Linked DNA regions of Homo sapiens: region 2 is linked to region 1. The links come from fine-mapping of genetic effects on gene expression. A gene starts in region 1. The other region holds a variant in brackets. All regions are shown on one strand. Distances are from middle to middle. Region 1 holds the start of TXNDC11 (thioredoxin domain containing 11). Region 2 overlaps TXNDC11 (thioredoxin domain containing 11).

Region 1 (5,381 bases):
TTGATCCCAGGAGGCAGAGGTTGCAGTGAGCCAAGATAAAAAAAAAAAAAAAAATCCTATTCTCCCTTAAGCCTATCTCCTTATTAAAGCAAAGATCTTAAAACTGAAAGAGGAAAAGCGGGGGTAGAAATGTTAGCCAGTTGCACAGCAATAAACAGTATCATGACACCATTCAATCAAAGATGACCCTAAAAAAATTAATCCGAGTCTATTAAAAGACTGTCAAATTTGCCAGTGACACAGAAAGAAGATGAAGCAGCAGCCATTTACTGGTTCATTCTCCTTGCCTGAAGCAAGAAAGGATCTCATTCTGCCTACTCTAGTAACTGGATTTACTCTCTTCCTTCCTTTTCAATCTCAAAGGACTTCTGTATCAATTAAGCCATGCTGTCTCAGAACAAACATTAACCATTATTTCTAGACTTTAACAAACCGATGTAAATAAACTTCACCCCTGGAGGGGGAAACCTCTCTTCCTAATTTGAACCTAAATGTCACCTCGCAACACTCTACCTTGTAAAATACTTTGTATACTGTCCTTGTGGGAGACAAGAATAAAGTACAAGGTTAAGAATCTAGGAGGTCCTGACAATAAAGGATTCAAATTCCAGCTCAGCCCCTTATCACGTAGGTGTGATTTGGAGCAGGTTCTGAAACATCACGAAGGCTGGACTCCTTCATCTGTGCACTGGGAAAGATAACAGTATATTCAAACTTTAATGGGGATTGTAAGATTTAAATGACACCCATACTAGGCTCTCAATTATGTACTAAATGAATAAATGCTTCATGGAAACAGTGGTTCCCAAGCAGGCAATTTTGCTCCCAGGGGACATCTAACAATGTCTGAAGCCATTGTAGTTGTTACATCTTGTGGGGTGTGCTACTGGTATCTAGTGGGTAGAGGCCGGGGATGCTGCTAGACATCCTACAGTAGTCAGGGCAGCCCCCACAACACAGAATTATCTGACCCAAAATATCAACAGTGCCAAGACGGAGAAACCCTGCTGACAGTACCTGGCCTATGGAAAATGCTCACTGAGAGTTATTATAATTTATCTTTCCACTAAAATCCCCGATCTTTTGACACCTCTTTGACAACTGGCCACATATCGTGCTAAATAAACTCAAAAATGTTCCGAGGTGAAATCACAGATATCATAGTAGCAATACAGATCTTATAAACTGGAATCCCAAAAGACCCACTGTGGATTTGGGAGACCAGAAGTACACCTGAAATATACAGCAAATTTTGTATGTGTGTACATTCCTGAAAAGACACACATGAACTTTCATGTTCCTACCCCCTACACCCCAGCCTACTGTCAGGCCTTTTTATCAATTCCAGGGAAACACCAAGCTTGCCCAGCCTCAGAAACTCTGCATTTGCTGTTCGCTCTACCGTGGACACGCTCCCCCGGGATCTTCCCAGCGCTGGTCCCTTCTCCTTTTTGTATAAGCTTCAAATGTCACTTCCTTAGGAAGTCTTTCCCCACCGCCATCGTTTCTATGCCCTGCATAGCACTGAAGCTTTAAAAAATTATATTTACTTGTTCACTGTCCCATCCACTCAAGGGAGCAAAAAGTTCACCCGGACGAGCGTCCGGCACATAGTAGGTGCAGATAAATAATCGTTAGATCAGGCCGGGTGCGGGGCTCTCGCCTGTAATCCCAGCACTTTGGGAGGCCGAGACGGGTGGATCACGTGAGGTCAGGAGTTCGAGACCAGCCTGGCCAACGTGGTGAAACTCTGTCTCTACTAAAAATACAAAAATTAGCCAGGCGTGGTGGCGCGCGCCTGTAATCCGAGCTACTCAGGAGCTGAGGCAGAAGAACCCCTTGAACCCGGGAGGCGGAGGTTTCAGTGAGCCGAGATCGCGCCACTGCACTCCTGCCTGGGACACAATGCGTGACTCCGTCTCAAAATAAAAATAATCGTTAGATCAATGAGTGCGGGAATTCTAAAAGGGGTCTGGAACTCTCGCAAGGTTGTGGATCACTACACCTGAAGCTTAAGGGGAATGAAATCGGTGAGAAATGAGGGTCCTACAGCCCGGGCCGAAGTGACAGGTCCACCCCTAGTGACTCCAACAGGTGAGGAGCACCCCCGACCCGCCTCCCTCGGCACTAAAGCGGGACGATAGGGCGCAGGGCTCCACCCGGAAGCCTCGCCATAATGTCCGCGGGCGGGCCGGGGCGAGGAGAAGGTGGGAAGCCGTGGCCGCAGGTTCCGGGAGGGGTCAGCCGTCCTGGGCAAGGTCAGGCCCGACTTCCCCGGCTGAGGCCGCTGCGACCCGGCCCTGCAGGCTCCAGGCGGCAGAGCAAGGGGAGCGCCCTAGCGGGGCCCCAGGGTCCGGGCCGCCTCACCTGCAGGTGAACTTGAGGGCGAGGAGCAGCGCGCAGCCGAGCGCCACGGCCCCGCAGAGCAGCTCCGGCCGCTGGCGCGCCATGAGGAAGGCGCCACGCAGCCCGCGACGGAGCCGGCCCGCCGAGGACGCTGTGGCCAGGGTCGGGCTCGAGCTGAGGCAGTCTGAGCCCGCGGGGCCGCCGCCGCCCCCTCCCTCGTCCTCGGCGTCCTCGCTGCTGCTGCTGCCGCCGCCGCGGCCTCCGCATTCCGACATTACATGCTCCCAGTCGCCGGCTTTATACCGCCGCCGCCGCCTCGGGCCCGAAGGCCCGGCCCGGCCCGTTGCTCCCCAATCCCGCAGCTCGCCGCACCCGCTAACCCGGACGCTCCACGTCAGCCGCGCCGCCGCCGCGGGGTCCGCCCCACCTCACACCCCAGAGCACGCAGCTCCGCCCACCGCTCACGGAGTCCGGGCGGGCACCGACACCGCCCAAATCCCCGCCCCCAACGGGCCACGCCCTGCACCCTACGTAAATGCACGGAAGCCTTCCCCGCCCGCAGCCCAGTCTTGGCCCCACCGGTCACGACCCCGCTCACGGAGTCTGCGCAGGCGCCGTCGCGGGGCGTGGAGAAGCTGCTCCCTTGGGATAAGGCCCGCGGGGAATACTTGGAACCTTGACACCGCTGTAGTCTGCTCTCGCCGCGCTGGGTTTTAGGAGCCGTAACGACAATAATCGTGTCCACCATTCTCACTACAGGCCCCGAAGCACGTAGGTGCCGTTTTTTATCCCAACTTAACTGAAGAAAAAAAAAACACGGCCGGGCGCGGTGGCTCAAGCCTGTAATCCCAGCACGTTGGGAGGCCAAGGCGGGCAGATTACATGAGACCAGGCGTTCAAGACCAGCCTGGCCAACATGGTGAAACCTCGTCTCTACTAAAAATACAAATATATTAGCCGGGCGTGGTGGCGGGCGCCTGTAATCCTAGCTGCTTGGGAGGCTGAGGCAGAGAATTGCTTGAACCCTGGAGGCGGAGGTTGCAGTGAGTGGAGATGGCGCCACTGCACTCCCGTCTGGGGGAGAGAGAGAGAGAGACTCTTGTCTCAAAAAAAAAAAAAGGACTTGTCCTCCAATGTCAATAACAACAAACTAGACAAATAAAACTTCGAGGGCATTAAGGCAATATGGTGTTATGCCACAAACAGAAGGCACAGCTAACGGCCAGTAGCTGAGACGCCACCTCTGCCACAGGTCAGCTATGTGACCCACGTGCAAATCTCATCACTTCCTGTCTGGTTCTGCTTCTGTGGATGTAGAATGGGGCAATCAATGGCTGTCTTGCTCAATTGGCCAGACATTTAATGTGTCAACCACCCAGGCCCAACATGTTGTGAGTTCATGTACACCGACCATTTTGCTATTTCTTTTCTATATGTCACTTTTTTTTTTTTTTTGGTTGTTTTTTGATACAGGGTCTTGTGTCACCCAGGCTGGAGTGCAATGGCGCAATCATAGCACACTGAAGCCTTGACAACCCCAGCTCAAGCGATCCACCCCCGTCAGCCTCCCAAGTAGTAGGCAACACAGATGTGTGCGACTACGCCCAGCTAATTTTTTTTTTTTGTGGAGACAAGGTCTCTCCATGTTGCCTAGGCTGGTCTTGAACTCCTGGGCTCAAGCGATCTTCCCCCTTCGACCTCCCAAAGCGTTAGGATTATGTAAAAGCATGAGTCACTGCGCCCACCTGTCACATCTTTTTGTTTCTTCTATACTGCCTTATTTTGTAGAAAGTAGCTATTTTCTCGTATAACATTAATTCCTTTATTTTTAACTTGTCCCTCATCTCTGTTTTGTGTTATTATTACCCTTATTATCTATGTTACAAACCCAACCATACAGTGTTAATCTTGTTTTAAAAAGCTGAGAAAAAATATATAGTTACAGAGTTTTTTTAACCTTCTAATTTGCCACTTATACTTCTGTTGATTCCTTTGTGTAGATTAGAGTTACACAATTTATTGCTAAAGAAAATAAATATGGTCAAAAGTCACCAGTGTCCTCATTCACTGTAGCTTGCTGCAACAGAATTTACCCTACACTTCCATAAGACATCTGACATTTGCACAGGGCTTCATAAGGTCCAAAGTACTTTCGTTGTCTGTGGTTTAATCTCACAAAACCCATAGTCCTTTGTGAGCAAATGCAAGGCAGTGTCTTACTGACCAGAAAACCACCCTGGATTAACAAAAGAATGCCTCCTTTCCTCTTCACTTTCTGAGCAACTGGGGCCCTGCTCTGGCAGCAGAATGTTCTCTTTTTTATTTTTTGTAGAGATGGGATCTCACTGTGCTGCCCAGGCTGGTCTTGAACTCCTGGCCTCAAGTGATCCTCCTGCTCTGGACTCCGAGAGTCCTGGGATCACAAGTCTGAGCCACTGCAGCTGGCCCAGAACGTTCTTCTGAAACAATTATAAATTTGTTTCAAAATACACTAGGCCTTTCGGGTCAGGCTGTACTACTTTTCATAGGTTAGGTCAGCCCTAACTCGTCCACACCAACTTGTATCTGAGTTTTCCATAGCCACTTTTTTTTTTTTTTTTCTTTGAGATGGAGTCTCACTCTATCGCCCAGGCTGGAGTGCAGTGGCACCAGGTCGGCTCACTGCAACCTCCGTCTCTTGGATTCAAGCAATTCTCCTGCCTCAGCCTCCCAAGTAGCTGGGATTACAGGTGCCCACCACCACGCCTGGCTAATTTTTATATTTTTAGTAGAGATAGGGTTTCACCATGTTGGCCAGGCTGGTCTCAAACTCCTGACCTAAGGTGATCCACCCGCCTCGGCCTCCCAAAGTGCTAGGACTACAGGCATGAGCCACCACGCCCAGCCTCTTGGCCACTTTTTATACCAAGATCAAGTTGCTCGGGGTTTGAGGAGGGAATGGGGCAGAGGAATATATATGTGTCATGTGCTGTGACAGTGGTCCCAGAAAATTATGATACTGTTTTTATTGTACTGTTTCTTTTCTTTGACAGAGT
Region 2 (5,381 bases), 41 kb before region 1:
AAAAATAATGGTATCCCAGTATTATTTCATTTGATAAAAGGAATTCTACTGCTACACAAACCAACCAACCTTAATCACTACCAAATCGAAGCAGAAACCTGATATATTTTTCCATCTCATAGTCCTACCTTTCTTTCCCCATCTACTTTTAATTTCTTTCTCAGTACCCTTTACTATAAATAAATATATGTAGGCTGTGTAACATGCTAAAAATGAAGGATGTAGGAAAATGACAGATAGCAAAAGCAGATGATGTCAAAGCAGCTTAGGCAGAGGCACAAGGAGCGTAGGTGGGCAGCAGAGAAACAACCACAGCAGTGATTGTCAAGGTGGGACGATGGGAGTTTGAAAAACCATACTCAAACTACACTCAAACATTTCCATTCGGAAAACACAAAAATACATTTGACTTTTGGAATATAAACTGCAAGAAGTAAAGCACAGCATCTGGGCTACGAGAGATATGCAGAAGCCAGGGCGACTGGCAAGCAAGGGGGCACCCCTGGAGTGGGCCCAACAGCCCCTCCGAAGGCACAAGACTTAGACATTGTGCCAAGGGGGGCGCAGGTTTTAAAGGCTGGGTACACTGGGTGCAGGGAAATTGATCTGTATATGACCTGTAAGTTACTGACAGTGATGCGAGAGAGACAGAATACTTCAGGAAAGTCAACTCAGTGATGTGACTTAGGAAGCAGCAACAGAGTAGACGCATAGGACTGAGCAGGACACAGGTCAATGCTCAGAAGCAGCTGAGTTCAGGCTGCTCCACAGAAAGCAAATGAAATCGGGGAACAAAGGCGACAATGGAAAACTGACGCTCTCTGGGATGAGAAGCCATCAACTTCTCACTGTGACTTGACAAGAACTTCAAAAATCCATTACATCAGCTAAGGAGAAAAGCATGTCACATTACTACTCATCATAAAAGAAACAGATAAACACAGAACATCACTCAGTGGAAGCCTAGCTTCTGAAAACACGGGCTCAGAGTAACAATTCTTCAAGAGAGTAACTCTGCAATTTTATCCAAGAAGAAAAACTTTAAAGTCTGTACCAAAATCTAAGAATACAAATAAAGAATTTCTATACATTAATTTCAAGAGCCCTCTAATGCATGGGTTCTTAACCTGGAGCCTGGGCTCTAGGGTGGGGCTGTAAGAACTCTCCATCCATATATAAAATCATATGCGCTTTTCTAGAGAGTGTCCATAGATTTTAACCAATTCTCAAAGGAGTCTGTGACCTAAACAAGGTTAAGAACCACTGCGCTAACATAAACGTGATTTCAAAATACTTACAAGTGATGTGTTGAAATGTCTATGTAAATACACACTTCCAGAGTGTACTAAGGATACCAGTTTCGCAAGATGTTTATTTGTGATAACCCCAAATCGTACTGTTCCTAGGTAATCTGAAACAGAAAATTTTCCTTTATTAAAGAAAAGGCCTGTGCCTTAAAACAACCACAAAACCCAGTGATCAAGTCTTGAAGCACAAACCCCTGCAGCTAAGCTCCTTCTGGTAACCTAGCCTAGAGAGGGAAGGAAGAGGCGCTGAGGAACCTCTCCTCCTGAAACCGACCTCGGCCCCTCAGATGTCAAGCCTGCTTCTGAGAGGATGTCTCTGACTAACGTCTCTGACAATCACTTGTGCTGAGGAGTCCCCTGTGTCCACCTATGATGGTCTGACCTGTCCCCATTGATGACAGGCTGAGGCACATGCTGTTCTCTTTGTCTGGACACTTCTTGTGGCTGGTTCCTTGTCATTACTCATCTCAGCTCCTACTTTCTGTGAGAAGCCTTCCTTGACCACCCCACCTAACAGCTAATATTTAGGGGAGAGAGTTTACAAAGGGAAACTGGGCTCCTGACCCATTCAGGTACTCCCTTTACCAATTACCCTATTTTTTATAGCACTTATTAACATTTGCATAATCTCATTCATTTATTTAGATTTCCTTTGGCCCAATGTCCTCTTTTTTTTTTTTTTTTTTTTTTTTTTGAGATGGAGTCTCGCTCTGTGGCCCAGGTTGGAGTGCAGTGGTGCGATATCGGCTCACTACAACCTCCGTCTCATGGGCTCAAGCAATTCTCCTGCTTCAGCCTCCCAAGTAGCTGCAATTACAGGCGTGTGCCACCACACCCAGCTAATTTTTGTATTTTTAGTAGAGACGGGGTTTCACCATGTTGGCCAGGGCAGTCTCGAACTCCTGACCTCAAGTGATGTGCCTGCCTCTGCCTCCCAAAGTGCCAGAATTACAGGTGTGAGCCACCACACTCGGCCCAATTTCCTCTTCTGACTGTAATTTCTGTGAAATTAGAGACTTTGTTTCATGCTAGTATCCCAGCACCTACAGAAGTGCCGGGGTGTATAGTTAAGAGGTCAAAAAATATTTATTAAATGAACAAATCTAGCATATATAAAGACTTATACAAATCAACAAGGAAAATTGTTAACATGGACAAACCACAGAAAAGGAAATATGTATACATGGCTAATAATTACTGGAAATAAACTCAACCTCACTATCCCAAAAGGAAGCAAATTAAAACAAAAGACTACTTTTGAC[C/A]CTCAAATTGCCAAGAATTTAAGACAAAGGAAACATCAAGTATTGATGAAAGTAAAGAAATGAGTATTTGATGTGATGCTGGTGGAAAAAGGCAAAACGGCACAGCCACTCAGGAAAGCAGCTGCTGTACCGACTACAAGAATGGACACAGCTGGGATTTCCACTGCTAAGCATCCACATGTTTGTTAGGAGTCACATGCAAGGATATTCACCAAGAAACATTCTGCAAATGTTAAAAACAATGAGGCAGGACTATACACCACAAACAGAGGCTGAAAGAGTAGACTTTTGATGTTAACAAAAAAAAAAAAAGAACTCACACTTATAAAAGTTATGTGTGTGTATGTGTGTGTGTGTATGTATGTATGTGTATATATATATATATATATATGTTTTTTCCCCTACAGGCACATATGTTTAGAAATGTATAAAGAATCTAAAAGGATAATGAAAGTGGTTTGATGTTGGAGAACGAACATCAACAGGGACCTTATCCTTATGTGTGAAGCTTTCATTTTTTTTCATGGAGTATAATATTTGTGTGATTATAAAGTATTTAGTGTTAAAGGAGGGTGAATAAGATACTGCAGAAAAAGGTACATTCTTTCCTATCCCCTTTTTGCTTTATTAGCACATGCTAAATAAAACATCAGTTAAACTACAGGCCAGGCGCAGGGGCTCATGCTCTTAATCCTAGCACTTTGGGAGGCCGAGGTGGGTGGATTGCCTGAGCTCAGAAGTTCAAGACCAGCCTGGCCAACATGGTGAAACCCTGTCTCTACTAAAAATATAAAAATTATCCGGGTGTGTTGTGGTGGGCACCTGTAATCCCAGCTACTTGGGAGGCTGAGGCATGAGAATCACTTGAACCCAGGAGGCAGAGGTTGCCGCGAGCTGAGATCCCAAGATCGTGCCACTGCACTCTAGCCTGGGCAACAGAGTGAGACTCTGCCTCCAAAGTAAATAAATAAATTTTTTTTTAAAAAACAGTTAAACATCAAATATTACCAAATTATACACAAGTAGCTAAGATATAAAAATATTGAGGTGTTAAACCCATAAAGTTTCCAGTTTTATCCCATGACCCCATCTTTCAGTGGTGTGGTCCTCTCTCCCTCAGGTAAGGAGTGGCCGACAAGGATGAGGTCGGAGTGAGTATGTCCCTACTGCCAGAGTCAATAATTTTTCATACAAATCTGATGAGTGTAAAATGGCACAAAACAAAAGAAATACAGGACAAATAAGCCAGGCTGGGGAAAGGGGACTGGAAACGGGAAGGCAGGGCTGAGGAGGCCTGGCACTGAGTAGGCCTTTTTGTATCTGACTCCTAGGGCCACAGTGATGTATCACACACCCTTCACACACTCCAAAATTAAACAATTAGTTAAAACCAAGCGAGATGTGGCAAACCCAACGTGGAATACAGCACGTACAAATAACCCTAACTATTGCAAACGGGTAACACCATGGTGAATGGGACAGGAAGAAAGAACCTAAGTAACTGGAAAACAGTATCTTGACTGGATGCTGTAAAACTAAAGGCAAAAAGAACTGTACATAAATGCTGTAAATCTAGGTAGTAAATGTGTTTCTTAAAGAGGTATAAGTTAGCAATTCTGAAACTATGAACTTATTTACTTCTTTGTGGTAAGTACATTATACATAATTACAGCCAGGACTCTCACTGTTGCAGTAAGAAGTTATATATTAATAAGAGAAGGCTAAAATAAACCCTGTGATGTTAAATTGAAATCAGAGAGAATGAGTATAAACTTAAGGCTTTTGATACACACACACACACACACACACACACACACACACAGAGGGAGAGAGAGGGGATGGATAGAGAAATACAGATATATGCACATGTGTGGGTATAATACACTTCCTAGTTCTATCTACTGAGAAGACCTAGAAGTAATGACATCCTAATACCAAAGAGCATACCTAGCACGTAGATCTTGGTTTCTAAATGCCATTCTCCAGTAAAAGAAACCAGGGCCCTTGGAGAAGAGGTTGATTCCAGAGCTGGGGTGAAGAAAGTACAAGATAAGCCTGAAATATCTTGTATCAGAAGTAAAGAAGTGGGCTGGGCATGGTGGCTCACGCCTGTAATCCCAGCACTTTGGGAGGCCAAGGCGGGTGGATCACCTGAGGTCATGAGTTTGAGACCAGCCTGGCCAACATAGTGAAACCCCATCTCTACTAAAAATACAAGAATTAGCCGGATGTGGTGGCACGCACCTGTAATTCCAGCTATCTGGGAGGCTGAGGCAGCAGAATTGCTTGAACCCGGGAGGTGCAGGTTGCAGTGAGCCGAGATTTTGCCATTGCACTCCAGCCTGGGTGACAAGAGTGAAACTCCGTCTCAAAAAAAATAAATGAAGTAAAGAAGTGCTCATAAAAGGATGGGGGTTTGTCCAAAGGACCCAGGAGCCAAGCTGAAGCCCTCCTAGTAGCCAAAGTTGGAACAATTTGAGCAACAAAATAAACAATGACAGTACACAGAATAAGATAAATACCCATGACTCCATAATAATATTAATGAGAACAGTCAGCTCTTCTTTAAGGGAGAATTCCACTAATAATGAAAAAAGAATGAAAGAAACAGAAAATAACCATTTGAACACCAGAGTAATTGTTGCAGGCAAGATCCACTGATGGAGGCTAAAATTCATGAGCAGAAGTTTGAGGATATATTTACATAGTGTCAAATGATCTTCCCCCAAGGTATTTATTTATTAATTACAAAGGAAGAGATAGTAACTTTTCAGTGGAGAAACACAGCAGACACTACTTTAACCAACTGATC

Evidence for each region. PIP is the estimated chance that this variant, and not a neighbour inherited with it, causes the effect.
Region 2: its variant is the best candidate, but not a certain one, in a credible set for the expression of TXNDC11 in whole blood (TOPMed, PIP 0.88).

The regions. Positions count from the first base shown.
Region 1 is chr16:11,740,110-11,745,490 of GRCh38, forward strand. It overlaps TXNDC11 (thioredoxin domain containing 11), which reads right to left and starts at 2,748. Exons shown (of 12, transcript NM_015914.7): 1 at 2,368-2,748. The coding sequence starts at 2,621. TXNDC11-AS1 (TXNDC11 antisense RNA 1) reads left to right here and starts at 2,905. Exons shown (of 1, transcript NR_186412.1): 1 at 2,905-4,397. RefSeq lists silencers at 2,196-2,865, 2,728-3,250.
Region 2 is chr16:11,699,154-11,704,534 of GRCh38, forward strand. TXNDC11 (thioredoxin domain containing 11) reads right to left here. Exons shown (of 12, transcript NM_015914.7): 6 at 1,299-1,411. Among named protein-coding and RNA genes, the nearest start is that of SNN, 33 kb to the left of the region's middle. The variant C/A (reference allele first, on the strand shown) is at 2,570.